Linked DNA regions of Homo sapiens: all the other regions are reported to be linked to region 1. Evidence: microRNA targets listed by miRTarBase, many of them from high-throughput screens and not tested one by one. Region 1 holds a microRNA gene; each other region holds the end of a gene's coding sequence.

What was found. The annotated mature microRNA hsa-miR-145-3p reads GGAUUCCUGGAAAUACUGUUCU and lies in region 1 at 2,718-2,739, shown strand. An mRNA with a match to its seed (bases 2 to 7 or 8) in the 3' UTR can be bound and repressed. Matches are read on the target gene's strand: a 7mer-m8 pairs with bases 2 to 8, a 7mer-A1 pairs with bases 2 to 7 and ends in A, and an 8mer does both.
Region 2: miRTarBase lists PRPF38A as a target of hsa-miR-145-3p. Seed matches in the 3' UTR shown: 8mer at 4,663-4,670.
Region 3: the mRNA of ABRACL is a reported target of hsa-miR-145-3p. Seed matches in the 3' UTR shown: 7mer-m8 at 669-675.

The regions. Positions count from the first base shown.
Region 1 is chr5:149,427,982-149,433,324 of GRCh38, forward strand. It overlaps MIR145 (microRNA 145), which reads left to right and starts at 2,665; the gene lies at 2,665-2,752. CARMN (cardiac mesoderm enhancer-associated non-coding RNA) reads left to right here. Exons shown (of 5, transcript NR_105060.1): 4 at 902-1,058; 5 at 4,737-4,855. It overlaps MIR143 (microRNA 143), which reads left to right and starts at 937; the gene lies at 937-1,042. RefSeq lists enhancers at 3,005-3,299, 5,316-5,343.
Region 2 is chr1:52,415,773-52,421,115 of GRCh38, forward strand. It overlaps PRPF38A (pre-mRNA processing factor 38A), which reads left to right. Exons shown (of 10, transcript NM_032864.4): 10 at 876-5,064. The coding sequence ends at 918. Among named protein-coding and RNA genes, the nearest start is that of PRPF38A, 14 kb to the left of the region's middle. RefSeq lists a silencer at 1,085-1,379.
Region 3 is chr6:139,042,444-139,047,443 of GRCh38, forward strand. It overlaps ABRACL (ABRA C-terminal like), which reads left to right. Exons shown (of 3, transcript NM_021243.3): 3 at 276-859. The coding sequence ends at 460. Among named protein-coding and RNA genes, the nearest start is that of ABRACL, 16 kb to the left of the region's middle.

The sequences.
Region 1 (5,343 bases):
ACTCTGTCTCAAAAAAAAAAAAAAGTCAAGGAGGGTTTCCCAGAGTGGCCACTTGATTAGAGACCTAGCACAGGAGGAAGAGATGGGCAGGGAGAGTGACGGGGAGCAGCACAGTCCCTGGGAGCCCGAAGTGGGTGGGCACAGGGCTCCCTAGGAGAATGGAAGGACATCTATGAGCTGTAGCCCAAGAGGAAGAGGTCACTGGGGCTAGATGCGGCAGACCCTCGCAGGCTTTGGGAAGGGCTTCAGAATTCAGCCTGAGGGCAATGGGGAGCCCTTTTGGGATATTAAACTTGAGTAAGATATGAGCATATTTGCATCTTGAAAAATCATTATGGGAAGATGGCTGGGAAGAGAGGAGGAGTGGCAGAAGAAAGATAGGTTGGAGACAATTGATTGCTCGATGATATAAAATGTTAAGTACCATGAATGATGCTGTTAGGCTGGAATGCGCCAAGCATAAAGGTGGGGCATGGCATCAAAAGGTAGGTCAACATATTAAATAATTCCATGTATTGAAATATCCAGAAAATATATAGACAGATCTATAGAGATAGAAACTGGTCTGCCCAGGACTAGGGGTTGTCTAAGGATAAGGAGCTTCTTTTTTGGATGGTGAAATAACCTAAAATATATTGTGCCATTGTTTGCACAACTTTGTGAATATATTAAAAACCTGTTAATTGTACTCACTAAATGTCCTCCTTCTAAATTAAGCTGTTCTTGACAAGAAAAGGAAAGAAACAAAGAAAAGAAGAGAAAAAAGGTCAAGGTTTGGTCCTGGGTGCTCAAATGGCAGGCCACAGACAGGAAACACAGTTGTGAGGAATTACAACAGCCTCCCGGCCAGAGCTGGAGAGGTGGAGCCCAGGTCCCCTCTAACACCCCTTCTCCTGGCCAGGTTGGAGTCCCGCCACAGGCCACCAGAGCGGAGCAGCGCAGCGCCCTGTCTCCCAGCCTGAGGTGCAGTGCTGCATCTCTGGTCAGTTGGGAGTCTGAGATGAAGCACTGTAGCTCAGGAAGAGAGAAGTTGTTCTGCAGCCATCAGCCTGGAAGTGGTAAGTGCTGGGGGGTTGTGGGGGGCCATAACAGGAAGGACAGAGTGTTTCCAGACTCCATACTATCAGCCACTTGTGATGCTGGGGAAGTTCCTCTACACAAGTTCCCCTGGTGCCACGATCTGCTTCACGAGTCTGGGCATGTCCTGACTCCTCTGTGTACCCCAGTGTGTCCATCTTAGCATGAGGCGTTAGCATTTCCCCAGCACCCTGCCTCTGCTTTCTCTTTCTGAGCCCATGGCAGACACAGCTAATCAGTAAAGGCATATATTCTTTTTTTTTTGAGACACAGTCTCACTCCATCACCCAGGCTGGAGTGCAGTGGCATAATCTCAGCTCACTGCAACCTCCTCCTCCCAGGGTCAAGCAATTCTCGTGCCTCAGCCTCCCAAGTAGCTGAGATTACAGGTGTGCGCCACCACACCTGGCTAATTTTTGTATTTTTAGTAGAGATGGGGTTTCACTATGTTGGCCAGGCTGGTCTCAAACTCCTGACTTCAGGTGATCTGCCCGCCTCGGCCTCCCAAAGTGCTGGGATTACAGGCATGAGCCTCCACGCCCCGCCAGGCATCCATTCTTGAAGTGCTCAGATGCAGCTTCAGAATCCTCAACAATGAGCCCTGGAAAGCCACTAGTACTGATTCACAGCTGAAACTCATTCATCATTTGTGGATCAAACAATTCCTAAAAACCCTTTCAGCCCTGAAGATAAAAATTCTGGCCTTTGAGTCAGGGTCTTCACTCTGTACTTCTAACCTTGGCTCCGGGGTATTGCCGAAACCAGTCCAGGCACGTCACAAATGTCTGACTTCTCCCAGAGGCTTCAGAAGCACAATGAGCAGCAGAGGAGAGCCATGGAGCCAAGCACAGTCTCATTTAACCTCCCCAAAAGCTTGGGAAGTGGGTGGTGTTATAGCCCCATTTTACAGATGAGAAAAACTGAGGCTTATTTAAGCAGCTCACCTAAAGTCACATATTGATTGTGCTGAGCTGAGATTGTACCCTAATCTGCCTTCAAATCCATGTTTTTACCCATTGCATGTGATTATGGAACCTGGGACCGAGGAGCAGGAGGAGAACATTCTAAATTCTGCTCCCATCTTGTCTTTACATCTCAGGTCACTTTTAGCAAAGACAGACCCGGACACTTGCCATTAATACTACAGGCTTCCTTCCTCCTACCCCCTTCCCCCAATCTTATTCATCTCACCTCTCCAGTAGGTCGTGGACTCATGCATTTTATAATTAAAGAAGGCCAAGGCTCAGGGGTTAAGTGACTTACTGGAGGTTATCAGAGAGGAAGTTGCCAAACCCAGGCTAGGAACTGAATGGTTGGTTTAAATCCACCCCTCTGGCAGGAGACTGGGGAATACACATGAGCCGTGCAGACAGCAGAGGGCAGTCCTGGGGGTGGGGGCGCCAGAGGGTTTCCGGTACTTTTCAGGGCAATTGAAGTTCCGGTCACTACTCCCCCCCAGAGCAATAAGCCACATCCGGCGACGTGTGGCACCCCACCCTGGCTGCTACAGATGGGGCTGGATGCAGAAGAGAACTCCAGCTGGTCCTTAGGGACACGGCGGCCTTGGCGCTGAAGGCCACTCGCTCCCACCTTGTCCTCACGGTCCAGTTTTCCCAGGAATCCCTTAGATGCTAAGATGGGGATTCCTGGAAATACTGTTCTTGAGGTCATGGTTTCACAGCTGGATTTGCCTCCTTCCCACCCCACAGTTGCCCCCCAATGGGGCCTCGGCTGGCTCACAGGATGAGGGTTCAAGAAGAAGGCTGTCCCTGGAGGTAAGAGGGCTTATGAACCATGTTCCAAACCTTTGCGTTGCTTTTCTTTCCATCGTGTCTATTTCATAACATCCCTGTGAGGCTGGATGTGGGAACTTCAGCACTGCCGTACTCTTGGGAAATTTGTCCAAGGCCACCCGGCTGAGCAGCGGTTGAACCAGGACACCATCAGGCATGCGTTTCTTGTCTCCACCACACCCTCAACCCACTTCCCAACGCGCCTTGCGACAGGGGCTGCGGTATTGCATCCACATGACTGATAAACTAGTAAACACACATGAATTCATTTTAAAAGTGTATTCAATCAGTTAGGTAAACTAAAAACCTTAAGTCTTCGTTCGATTTGGAATGCAGCCAGAGAACAAATGGAAAATTTTTCAAGGTAGAGAAGATGAAAACTCAGAACGCCCTCTTGTGGCATCTCTACCCACCCTAGGAACACTATGGCTCTTCCCCTACACATGGTGATTGCTAACCTTGCTACAAGACGTTGGACACACACACACACACACACACACACACACACACACTGAGGTTCCTTTTGCCCCCTCACTTTTGAGCCAGTGACTACTGAAACCCTCTCCATTGTTGCACCACCAGCAATGCCCCCATCACTTCCTCTCATTTACTTCCACAGGCTGGTTCATCCTCAAAGCCCTCCTTACGTAGATCTGTGGGATCAGTGAGGCTCAGAGAGGTAAAGTGGCCAGCCCAAGGTCGCCCAGACAGCAAAAGGCAGGGCCAGCGCTGATTTCAAGTCCAATGGCCTATGGCAATTTCTTAGCCAAAAGCAAAATCTACAAAAATAAAAAGTCAGGCACAGTGGTGAGTGCCTACAGTCCCAGCTACTGAGGAGGCCGACGGGGGAGGACCACTTGAGCTTGGGAGTTCCTGGCTGCAGAGAGCTATGATTGTGCCTGTGAATAGCCAATGCACTCCAGCCTGAGCAAGATAGGGAGACCCTGTCTCTAAAAAATACCTAAATAATTTTAAAAGTCAGCCTCTCTGACTGCCTATAGAGAATGCTAACTAACTGAATGACAGAAGACCTAATGTAATCCAGGTGCAAAATCAGAACTTTCCGGCCGGGCGCGGTGGCTCACACCTGTAATCCCAACACTTTGGGAGGCCCAGGCGGGTGGATCACGAGGTCAGGAGTTCAAGACCGGCCTGCCCAACATGGCAAAACCCCGTCTCTACTAAAAATACAAAAAATTAGCTGGGCATGGTGGTGGCCACCTATAATCTCAGCTACTCAGGAGGCTGAGGCAGGAGAATTGCTTGGACCCGGGAGGCAGAGGTTGCAGTGAGCTGAGATCGCGCCACTGCACTCCAGCGTGGGGGACAAAAGCGAAACTCTGTCTCAAAAAAAAAAAAATTAGAACTTTCCCCGTACTCTTGCTAGGGCTTTTCATGGAGATGTAGAAATGGTAGTAAGTGCCAAGGCCCCAGAACCCTCATGTTTGGGTCCGACTCCCACATTGCCAGAGACTAGGCAGCTCACACAGGTGTCCCAAGCTGTCTTTCTCACAGGCCGCATTGAAGGCATTTATGAAATGAGACCCCCTCTTCCTCATCCGTAGTGACAGGGCTGGCCTGACCGTGGAGAAATCAGATTTGATCATGATAGCTTCCACTCCGTGACTGGTCACGATCTGCCAGGCGCTGTGCTAAACACTTTCATAGGCCTTGTCCCCCTCCATCCTGATAACACCCCAGTGAAGCAGGCCCTGCTCTTCACTCCACTCCACAAAGCCAAGGCTGAGAGAGGTTAACAGACTTACCTAAGGTCACACAGCTAAGAAGTCGTGAAGCTGGGATCGAATCAAGTCTGTGTTTATGGGTTTAACTATCATGTTGTGGCCCCAACCCCATTTGACCTAGCCTGGCTGGTGGGCCTTCTTGCAGTAGCTTCCCCTGGAGAAGAGGAAAAGCAAACCTTCATTGAGACCCAAGCGGTCTCTCCTGTGCTCTGTGACAATAATAAAGTTCCAGCCCTTGGCTCCTGTCCTGTTTCTTTCTGGGAATTTGGGGAAGGGGGGAGGTGGCGAAGGCAGGGAAAGAACCTGACAGGCCCAGCTGAACACCCCCAAGTGGCTCCACACAGCCACTTTGGGAGGCCACATAGATAGCAGTCAGGACCCACATCCTGGCAGTTGGAGGCCCCAGGAAGCAGCCATGTCTGGGGATGCTTCCCTGGTATGGAGGGTTAGGGGATGGAGAGTGTCCCTTGAAGCTCAGTGAGGGCTTCTTGGGGCACTTGGGATCTAGCCATGTGGCAACCCCTCTCTGTCAGTCACAATGGTGTGACTGACCAGGTCAAATAAGAAAGAGTGTGAAATGTGAAGCCAGTTCACATCTCACACAGGTGTTTGGATTCACAGTGGCCTCTGGACATTAGCCAGGCCCTGCAGTAACACTGGACATTAGCTGTGCCATAGGCAGCGTGGCCAGCACATGAGGACACTTTTCACATGGTTATCTGCCTTGG
Region 2 (5,343 bases), not on the chromosome of region 1:
CTTTCATTTGATAAGATTTCATTAGAAACCCCCATGTGCCATATACCGTTGGGTGCACTCTTTTTTTTTTTTTTTTTTTTTTTTTTTTGAGACGGAGTCTCGCTCTGTCTCCCAGGCTGGAGTGCAGTGGCGCAATCTCGGCTCACTGCAAGCTCCACCTCCTGGGCTCACGCCATTCTCCTGCCTCAGCTTCTCGAGTAGCTGGGAATACAGGTGCCCGCCACCACCCTTGGCTAATTTTTTATATTTTTAGTAGAGACGGGGTTTCACCATTTTAGCCAGGATGGTCTCAATCTGACCTTGTGATCCGCCCACCTCGGTCTCCCAAAGTGCTGGGATTACAGGCATGAGCCACCGCGCCGGGCCTGTTTGGTGTACTCTTAACCTCTAAGAGGTCATTTCCTCAATGGTAAAATTTGGATAGTAATGCCTGACTCAAGAGTGTTGCTCTGAGTCAAAAAAATACCAAGCAGTTTAATGAATATTGAGTGTCAGCTCCATCCCCATCAATGTCAGCATACCAAGGTCTTTCTCAGGACTCCTTTTTTTTTTTTGAGATGGAGTCTCACTCTGTCATTGAGGCTGGAGTGCAATGGCCCAATCTCGGCTCACAGCAACCTCCACCTCCCGGGTTCAAGCAATTCTCCTGTCCCAGCCTCCTGAGTAGCTGGGATTACAGGTGCCCGCCGCCATGCTCGGCTAATTTTTGTACTTTTAGTAGAGACAGGGTTTCACCATGTTGGCCAGGCTGGTCTCGAATTCCTGACCTCAGGTGATCTGCCTACCTTGGCATCCCAAAGTGCTGGGATTACAGGCGTGAGCCACCGTGCCTGGCTGCTTCTTAATATAATTATTTATATGTGTTGCCATTTCAGGTCTAAGAAGAGCCACAAGAAGAGCCGGAGAGGGAATGAGTAATGGACTCAGTTTGGTTTTAGTCCACATGGCCTCCTGTGGATATAAGGATATCTGTATGTGGAAGGATTAAGATCTCCCCCAGGCAGCTATAAGAATATTTTAGTTTTTTTCTTATCAAGTTTCTCAACCTTTATTTTTAATGAAGGAGGTGCTGAGTTTTGTATCTTTTTAATCATAATCAACATCAGTTTTTGACCCAACTAACCTTGACTGTATTCAAACTTATGAGAGTATAAAGGATCTGGAGGTTGGGGATATGACTGACAAGGAAAGGCTGTGGCCACCTGATGACCCTTTCCCTTTTTATTAAACCGGACACACCTGTTTCCCATTTCGCTGTAGTTTAGTTTTTGGTTTGTTGTGGTTGGAACTGCTTTGAGAATCCTGGGATTTGTGCTGCTGCTGTTATTCAAAGATCAAAGGAGTAAAACATAGTTGCTCCTAACTTTTTTCCAGCAGCAGCAAGTGGTAATAAACATGAAAACTGGTTTGTAGCAGTTTTGAAAGAATAGAATGCATTCAAATGTAAGGCTGCTTCTGGATCATTAAAGCCAGTTTCATCAAACAGTTCAACAGAGAGCAGCACTTAATACCCTTTATACAGCCCATTTTTTCATAGTTTCATTTGTTCTTGCCCACAAGCTTGAAATCCAGGTTAAGGTATCCAGCCTTTATCATATAAGCATTGACATTATCCAGGCCTAGTCAGTAGCAGTAGGGTAACGGGATTGAAAAAGATTTGATGGAGAGGAAAGTATCTAATATTAGTCATGGTTTTGACCTAAATTGCTAGACAGTCGTGCCATTCACAAAGTCAGAAAATACAGCAGGAAGAGACAGCTTTTAGAGGGGCAGAGAATTAGAGGATGGTGGTAGTAATGAAAATGATGCATTCAGTTTAACAAGTTTAATTTGAGACAGCTATGGTATAGCTAAAAACAAAAGCCCATAAAGTTGGAGATAGGGACCAGAGTTTAACATAGCGATCTAGGCCAGAATTGACAATGTTTAAGTAATGGTGGAATCTGTCAATAAGACTTCCCAGAGTGTTAATATATATCAGAAATGCACACAACAGAACCATAGGCAACACCAACACAGGAAGAAATAGAAGTCACCTATTGAAAACTGGAATGGCCCATTCAGAAAGACAGGAGAATTAGGAGAGAGTGAGTGAAAGAAGCCAAGGGTCAAGAATGCAGAAGCAAAGGAAGGACTAAAAAGCCTCCACGGACATCGATAATCAAGAGATTATTAAGATCTTTGCTAGAAGAGTTCCTTTACCTGTACTTAACTCCCTTAAAAAGAGAAAAGTGATGGAATGACTTCTGCAACTGTAGTCCCAGCAGGAACTGTGAAGACCAGCTGCCCTGCAGGATCCAGTTTTTCTTGGGAGGTTGTATCTGGTCATAAGGTAAACATTCTATATATTCTATGCCTGCTCTAGAATTGAAAGACTTCAGCAGTATTAAAGCATTTTTTAATCTTATTTGAGCTTTCATATTCTTCAATGGTTCCTTTCGTAATACCTGAGTTAATAAAAGTGGTCTGAAAGAGCTCTTACGGTTTCTGATAGAACTATATAGGACTACCTTTTAAGATTAAATATAAGCATCTGTACGTAAATGTATTACAGTGTCATAGCAGTTATTTCTTTATGAAAGTGATCTAGGTAGAAAGAAATGTCTTCTGGCATGGACAGAAATGACCCATGGACCAACCAAGCTGTCATCCAGTACACTCTTAAAATAAAACTTTGTCTTAAAATATGTTTTAAAGTAAAAATAAACCCACGCACAAAGCCCAATAAATTTTAGTAACAGAAATAAACCTCCCTAAACAAACATTAAAACATACTTGTTTAGACATATGGTAATATGTGGACCAAAATTGAGGTACCACAGCCAATCAATAGCAGGAAAGAGAATGTCCCTATTCTTTAATTAGAAGAAGGAGGTAAGAGTAAGACATGTTGCATGTCTGTAGATATCGTTTTGATAAAATTACACAGGAGATGGAGCTTGAGGACAAACCTTGCTGTAAGGCTCTTTCTGTCATCTATGTGCTTGCCTATGGATGAAGCATTTTAAACTTTTTGACTACAGCATACATTTTAAAAACGTATTTTACATCTTACCTCTGTACACATCTGTATTCTGTACTGAGACAAATTTCAGGAAAGAATACTTACTATGCAAAGTGAATTCTGGTGTTTCCTACTTGTTAACAGTTTTTAATATTGGATGAAACCACTTAATCGATTTCACTTCCAATAATTTGAAATACACTGACTTAAAAGCTTTGCCATAGGGCACAATCGCCTTTTAATACTAAGAAAGTAAGGGAGATGTGTTCCAAGGGGCAAAAGAAATAATGCATTTTTGGCCAGGTGCGGTGGCTCACGCCTGTAATCCCAGCACTTTGGGAGGCCGAGGCGGGCAGATCACCTGAGGTCGGGAGTTTGAGACCAGCCTGGCCAACATGGAGAAACCCTGTCTCTACTAAAAAATACAAAATTAGCCGGGCATGGTGGCGCATGCCTGTAATCCCAGTTACTTGGGAGGCTGAGGCAGGAGAATCGCTTGAACCTGGGAGGCAGAGGATGCGGTGAGCTGAGATCGTGCCACTGCACTTCAGCCTGGGCAAAAAGAGCGAAACTCCATCTCAAAAAAAAAAAAAAAAGAAGAAGAAGAATGGGTTTGGTGAGAGGGTTCCAATATTAACAACCCAACTTCAAGCTCATTCCTCTAACCTCTTCCTGTTTGTTATTCTTCAGTAGACCGAAGTTTAAATAAGCATTATTTAGAAAAGAACGATCACAGATTGCCCACTCCCTCAAAAAGGTTAATGTGACAGAAATTCTCCACCTGCTCAAAAAAGACAGCAGACATGATCTCTTTAAAAAAAAAAAGTTCAAAAGAGATTAAGAGATGAAAAATAAGATTGGTGGAGTTTAAAGGCCTTATACTAGAAACCACAAAACATAAAACAGCACAGAGAAAATAGGCTGGAGGAAATAAAAAATGGAAAAGAGAAATATGTAGAATAAAGAAATATTCTGATGGTTTAAAAAGAATTGGCCGGGTGCGGTGGCTCACGCCTGTAATCCCAGCACTTTGGGAGGCCGAGGCAGACGGATCATGAGGTCAGGAGATCGAGACCATCCAGGCTAACACAGTGAAACCCGTCTCTACTAAAAATACAAAAAATTAGCTGGGTGTGCTGGCGGGTAGAGCTACTAGGGAGGCTGAGGCAGGAGAATGGCGTGAATCCGGGAGGCGGAGCTTTCAGTGAGCCGAGATCGCGCCATTGCACTCCAGCCTGGGCAACAGAGTGAGACTCCGTCTCAAAAAGAAAAAAGAATTAAATGGGGTCAGGATGGTCTCAGATCTTATAACAAGAAGGCAATGAAGCAAAAGGCTCCAAAGGTTTGAGAAAAAGTGCCAGGAATTTTATACTTTGCCAAAGTTGTCTTAAAATACAAAGGCTATAGATGTTCTCAAGTTTGTAAGAACTTAAAAGTACAAATCATGAGTCTTTGGGAAAAAACCGCCCAATAATGAAATTCAACTAAAGAAGAAATGAATCAAATTAAGGACTTAGGAACAAAGAATCAGTAAAAGGAGTGTTAGTAAACACTTCAGAAACTTTAAAAATAATGGGCAATGATTATAAAGTCAAATATTATGAACACTGTCTATATAGAAATAACAAGTAGAGTGTGCTGGTTTCATCTTTCATAGCAGGAATCACGTACAGTCTCTAATTAAAACATACATGAAGCTAGAAAAAAAAATAGCCTCTTTATTGTTTTCCGTAATTGTCCTTAATTTTAGGAGAAATCTTACAAGACTAGATTCTCTTGTGGGGAAAAAAGTATTTAAATTGAGCATTTTTTCAGTTTCACACTTGTTTTCCTTTTGTTAATTTGCTATATTTGTTAAATATAGCATATGAGCCCACTTTTGTAAAACTATTTGTATATATGTGCCTGTATGATTAAGAGAGATGGTTGGAATGAATGAAGTTCACCAGATAGTACTTCTTTCTGGCTGATGAACTTTTGAATGATTTTTAAACTTTGTACTTTTATATAATGCTTATTTTCTTTTTACAATAAACATGTTAATTTCTACAAGGAAGAAATGAGTTGTTGGGAGTTAAAAGCTTTTTTATAAGCATACCAACACATTTTACGTATTGTTTGCTGGAACTACAGATTGATAACCACTTTTATGAAGGGCAATTTGGCAATATGTAGCAGGAACCTTAGGACTTTTGATCCTTTTACCCAGTAATCCCATTTAGGGGAATTTACCCTAATAGAATAATTACATGTACACACAAATAGCTTTATCCCATCATCATTTTACACATTACATATATAATATGTATATATAAGAATAACTGGAAACAGCAAAAATG
Region 3 (5,000 bases), not on the chromosome of region 1:
CTGCAGTATTAGCACTGTAGCACATTCAACTTTTGTAAATGTTGGTTCTCAGTCTTTGTCTGGATAATCCTAAGGCCAAGAGGCATATAGCATGTATTTATTCCATTACTTTTTGGATCAGGGAAGAGAATATGTTGAATTTATGACTGTTAAGTGTTAAATTGCAACCTTGGATAGCCCATAGTTATAAATTTATTAAAGATTTTGTAAGTCTTCCATACTTGAGGGTATGAAACAGACTTTGCATTTGCTAACAATGTATTTTCTCAAACTAGATGCTGATGGAAAGTTAAGCGTGAAATTTGGGGTCCTCTTCCGTGATGATAAATGTGCCAACCTCTTTGAAGCATTGGTAGGAACTCTTAAAGCTGCAAAACGAAGGAAGATTGTAACATATCCAGGAGAGCTGCTTCTGCAAGGTGTTCATGATGATGTTGACATTATATTACTGCAAGATTAATGTGGTTTACATATCTTTATGTACTGCCATTTTTTGTTTCTGGTAAACTGGAATATAAAGTGAAAGAACAAACATTTGAACATACTTAATGTATTTTTATAGAACTTTGTAAACGAAAGGAGATTCATGTTTTAGAAGTCTGTCCTTTTTTATATCTTGAAAGAAAATCTATGTATGATGCTATAAAATAAATCCTATTATTTTTCTCAGGAATCTGGTTAGGAATTGCAGGCAATGAGATTTTTTGCGGGGCAGGGATGGGAATGTTTGTTCATAAATAATTAGACATTTTCTATAGATATTTGACATTCTGCGAAAGCAACAAGCAAACTGAAGACCAACTCCTATGAGAAATATTATGATGTTTATGTAATAAAGACATGTAACTGTCTTAAATTTGCCTTATTTTGTCATTTAAGTATTTGTGTGCTTCTCAGAATTGAGTTTTTGCATCAAGATTAGGTAACTGCAGTAAAAGTTGTGTTACTCTGAAACAAATTCTCTCAAAACTACCAAATTTAAGTAATAGGAAGGGCTGGGCACGGTGGCTCACACCTGTAATTCCAGCACTTTGGGAGGCTGAGGCGGGCAGATCACCTGAGGTTGGGGGTTCGAGACAGCCTGGCCAACATGGTGAAACCCCATCTCTACTAAAAATACAAAAATTAGCTGGGCGTGATGGCACACATCTGTAATACCCACTACTCTGGAGGCTGAGGCACAAGGATCACCTGAACCCAGGAGGTGGAGGTTGCAGTGAGCTGAGGTCGCCCCACGGCACTCCAGCCTGGGCGACAGAGCGAGACTTGATCTCACAAAAAAAAAAAAAAAAAAAAAAGAGGAATGGTTAGTGTTATGGTTAGACCCTATACAAAATATTTATTTTGAGGCTGATTGTGTGCTTATTGCTGAGTTTGGGGACATGCCAAAAAATCTAACCTAAAAACTTCACATTCTAGTTGGGTTACACCCATCTGAAACAATATGGGATAATCTCTGATTGCATGTTACAGAATTTAACATGACTTGGAATGCCAAGGAGAATAAAAGCAGTGAAAGCCACAATGGCCAGGGGAGATATCCTGGAGGGGGCAGAACTTGCATGGAGGAATGATTGCAGCTGATTATCTCGAGGGAAAAAAAGATGGGATGATGAGGGTGATGACTGAAGGAAAGGCAGAAGGATACAAATTGGCAAGGCATGATCTCGTGAAAGGCAGGATATGAGGCCGACCAGAATGCTGGGGAGAGAGGTCGTTCATTGGACAATGAAAGTGGGACCTGGGAAATCAGGAAGAGGAATATGAACAGAAACTGGAGCCAGGACATTCCATGATGACAGTGATGTTTAGTGCAGATGGCCCTCACACTAGTGATTCAGGTGGATTGTAGAGAGTGAAGAAGTGGTCAGACAAGCCAGCTGAAATGTTGCTCAGGAATCTCATGGGGGTGACCATAACGCAAAGGCGGGGGAAGAATGAACTCCAAGCATGTTTTTAAAATCAAAGCCCTCTCATCTGTACTCTTTCTGCTGTGACAGGACCCCAATTCAAAGATCAAACATTAGAATTCACTGGCACTTGACGGTTATTGCTAACATTTATTGAGCATTTACAATGCCAATTCTCATATAACCCTGTGAGGTAGGTACTAATAGTACCTTCCATTTTATAGATGAGGTAAGTGAGGCACAGAAAGGTTAAGTAGCTTGTCCAAGTTCACCTAGGTAGAAAGTTGTAGAGTCTGAATTTTGAAATTGGACTCATCTAACTGGCAATTCCAGGGATGGCGTAGACTTTGAGCGTGGCTGGCTCCAGGGACTAAACAATGTCAAAACTCTCTGCCTTTCCATATTGGCTCTCATGCATTCTCTGGTTTGATCTCTTTCTACTGTAAATAGACTCCCTGCAGATAGCTGGGAAGATGCTGCTAGTAGTTGCAAATTCACTTATTTCTAGATTAGCAATTCTAGTAGAGGGAGCATTTATTATAATATCTAATTATGAATTCCAAGAAGGAAATTCTGATTGCTTCCACTGCAGTATAAACCTACCCCTTTGACCAATGGCATTTACCAAGGAGATGAGACACCATGAACTGACAGGCCACAGGTAACATGCTGGTTTCTCAGTGGGGATGGGGTGAGTTATTGTGCTTCACAACCTCATTTCAAATAAGAAAAGGGTAGTTTTCCAAAGGAAACGATGTTGGCTACATGGGAACGACATGGGTTCACTGTAGAAATAAGAGACCTTTTGAAGAATGAATCTTTACAATTATGTGGCAAAAAATGAAAAGGTGAATGAGAAGCGATGGTCAAAAGCTACCATCATATATGCCCTCAGTGACTGAGAGAATGATGAACTAATTAACAGAGGTGGGAAAATTGGATGGAGAAGGAGGGCTAGTTTCAGGGAGTTTGATCTGGGCATGGTAAACTTGAGGTACTTAAAGTAGAAATGTGTAGTAAGTAGGTGAGGATTTTCTTCTAGAACCCAGGCTAAGTAAAGGCATAGGAGTGTAGACAGAGACTTGGGAATTACGGTTCATGGTTGATTTTCACCTTAATTTTGATTTGTATAGATAATTCTACTTCTGACTCTCATTAGCATTAAATTGAAATTTTAATTATCAGGCACTTAGAAAACACAAAAGACAAACAATCTACAGGCTTTGTAAAAGTCTAGGCTGAGAAATTGAAGCAACCTTTAGATGGAAGCAATGTAGGAAGCCCAAAGACATCTAACAGAATTTTATGAGGCAGCTGACCTTGTGTAATCAAAAAGAATCTTAAAAAATCTATAGAAGTTGAAATTGTTAATCTGTCATGATTTGTTTAATGTCTTCTTGGCGAGCATCAAATGAAGTTTAGTTTTAACCCTTGATGATTTAACATTTAATGAACATCTTCCAGAAAAGGTATATTCATGTGATTGTTCAGTTATTGTAAGAAAACTGACAGAATATCATTTCTATCTACCATTGATATCCACGATACAGTTTTATGTATTTTCCTTTAGATTCAAGATGGTTAGTTCTTTGTATCAACTTCACATATACATAGTTGTTTTATTGGATCATGGTCTTAAAATTTTAAATCATAGATTTGATTTTTTTGAGCTATATTCACAGTGAAAATACTCTTTCTTGGCCATAAGCTGCATTGCAGTTAATTATCTCAGTAATAAGTGCCATTGGCTACAGTTGGCTGGGAATTAGAGATTATCAACAGTTGTATACCAACATTCCTTTATTCACGCAATGAAAATATGGAACCTCTACTTTGTTCAAGTCACTGTTCTAGGCGTTAGGAAGGACTAAAGCAAAGCAAAATAAGAATAAACAAAATTCTATTCTAGTCCTCAAAAAACCCCAATTAGTACTATATATTATTAATAAACAGTATAAAAGAAGCTTTGGGTAAATGATATAGAGATATGGGTGCAAAGATAAAGAATCATTCCTGAGGGGACCTGGAGGGCTTTCATGGATAAAGTGACATTTCCTGGGGCTTTAAAGCAATAGAATAATAGGGTAGGACTTTAGGGGTAGAGTCACTACTGCATACAAAGTCAGAGAAAGGCAAGTAATTTGAGGTACAGAAGGAAAGTAGTGTAACAACAGTTGAGGCCAGAAAGGAAGGTTGGGAACATTATTTTGAACCTTTAGGACAGAAGAAACAATTCTAAGTGTATGTCTTAATAATGGTGAGTTACAAAGAACTGTAAAAAAACTTACATAAAATATTTGATAAGTACCACTAATTATAAAGAAACTTTAATTTTTAAGTTCTGTAACATTGCTATTTTGTGTATTGAGATTAAATAAGACAATCTATAAGTATAGCTTATCATCTTCATAGTGAATGACTGTTCATTGAAAACTGATTAAAGTTACCACGTTTGCAGTCTTGAATTTTCTTAAGTTTCTGTCATAGAAAGTCCAAGCATACCCTAGTGTCCTGGAGTTACAATTTAAAAATAAGTTACTGGCTGAGTACAGTGGTTCACACTTATCCCAGCACTTTGGGAGGCCAAGGCAGGAGGATCACTTGAGTGCTGGATTTCCAGACCATAACAAGACCCCATCTCTACAAAAAAATTTAAAAAATTAACTGGTCGTGGTGGCGTGACCCACTACAGTCTCCACTACTTGGGAGGCTTTCATGGATACCTAGGAATTCAAGGCTGCTGTGAGCCATGACAGTGCCATTACACGCCAGCCTGGGTGTCAGAGTGAAATTCTGCCTCTAAAGAAATAAATAATTAATGGCCAGGTGCGGTGGCTCATCCCTGTAATCCCAGCACTTTGGGAGGCCGAGGTGGGTGGATCACGATGTAAGAGATCGAGACTGTCCTGGCAACATGGTGAAACCCTGATGCTAAAAATACAAAAATTAGCTGGGCGTGGTGGCACACACCTTGTAGTCCCAGCTACTGGGGAGGCTGAGGCAGGAGAATCACTTGAACTCGGGAGGTGGAGGTTGCAGTGAGCCACGATCGTGCAGCTGCACTCTAGCCTGGCGACAGAGGGAGACTCC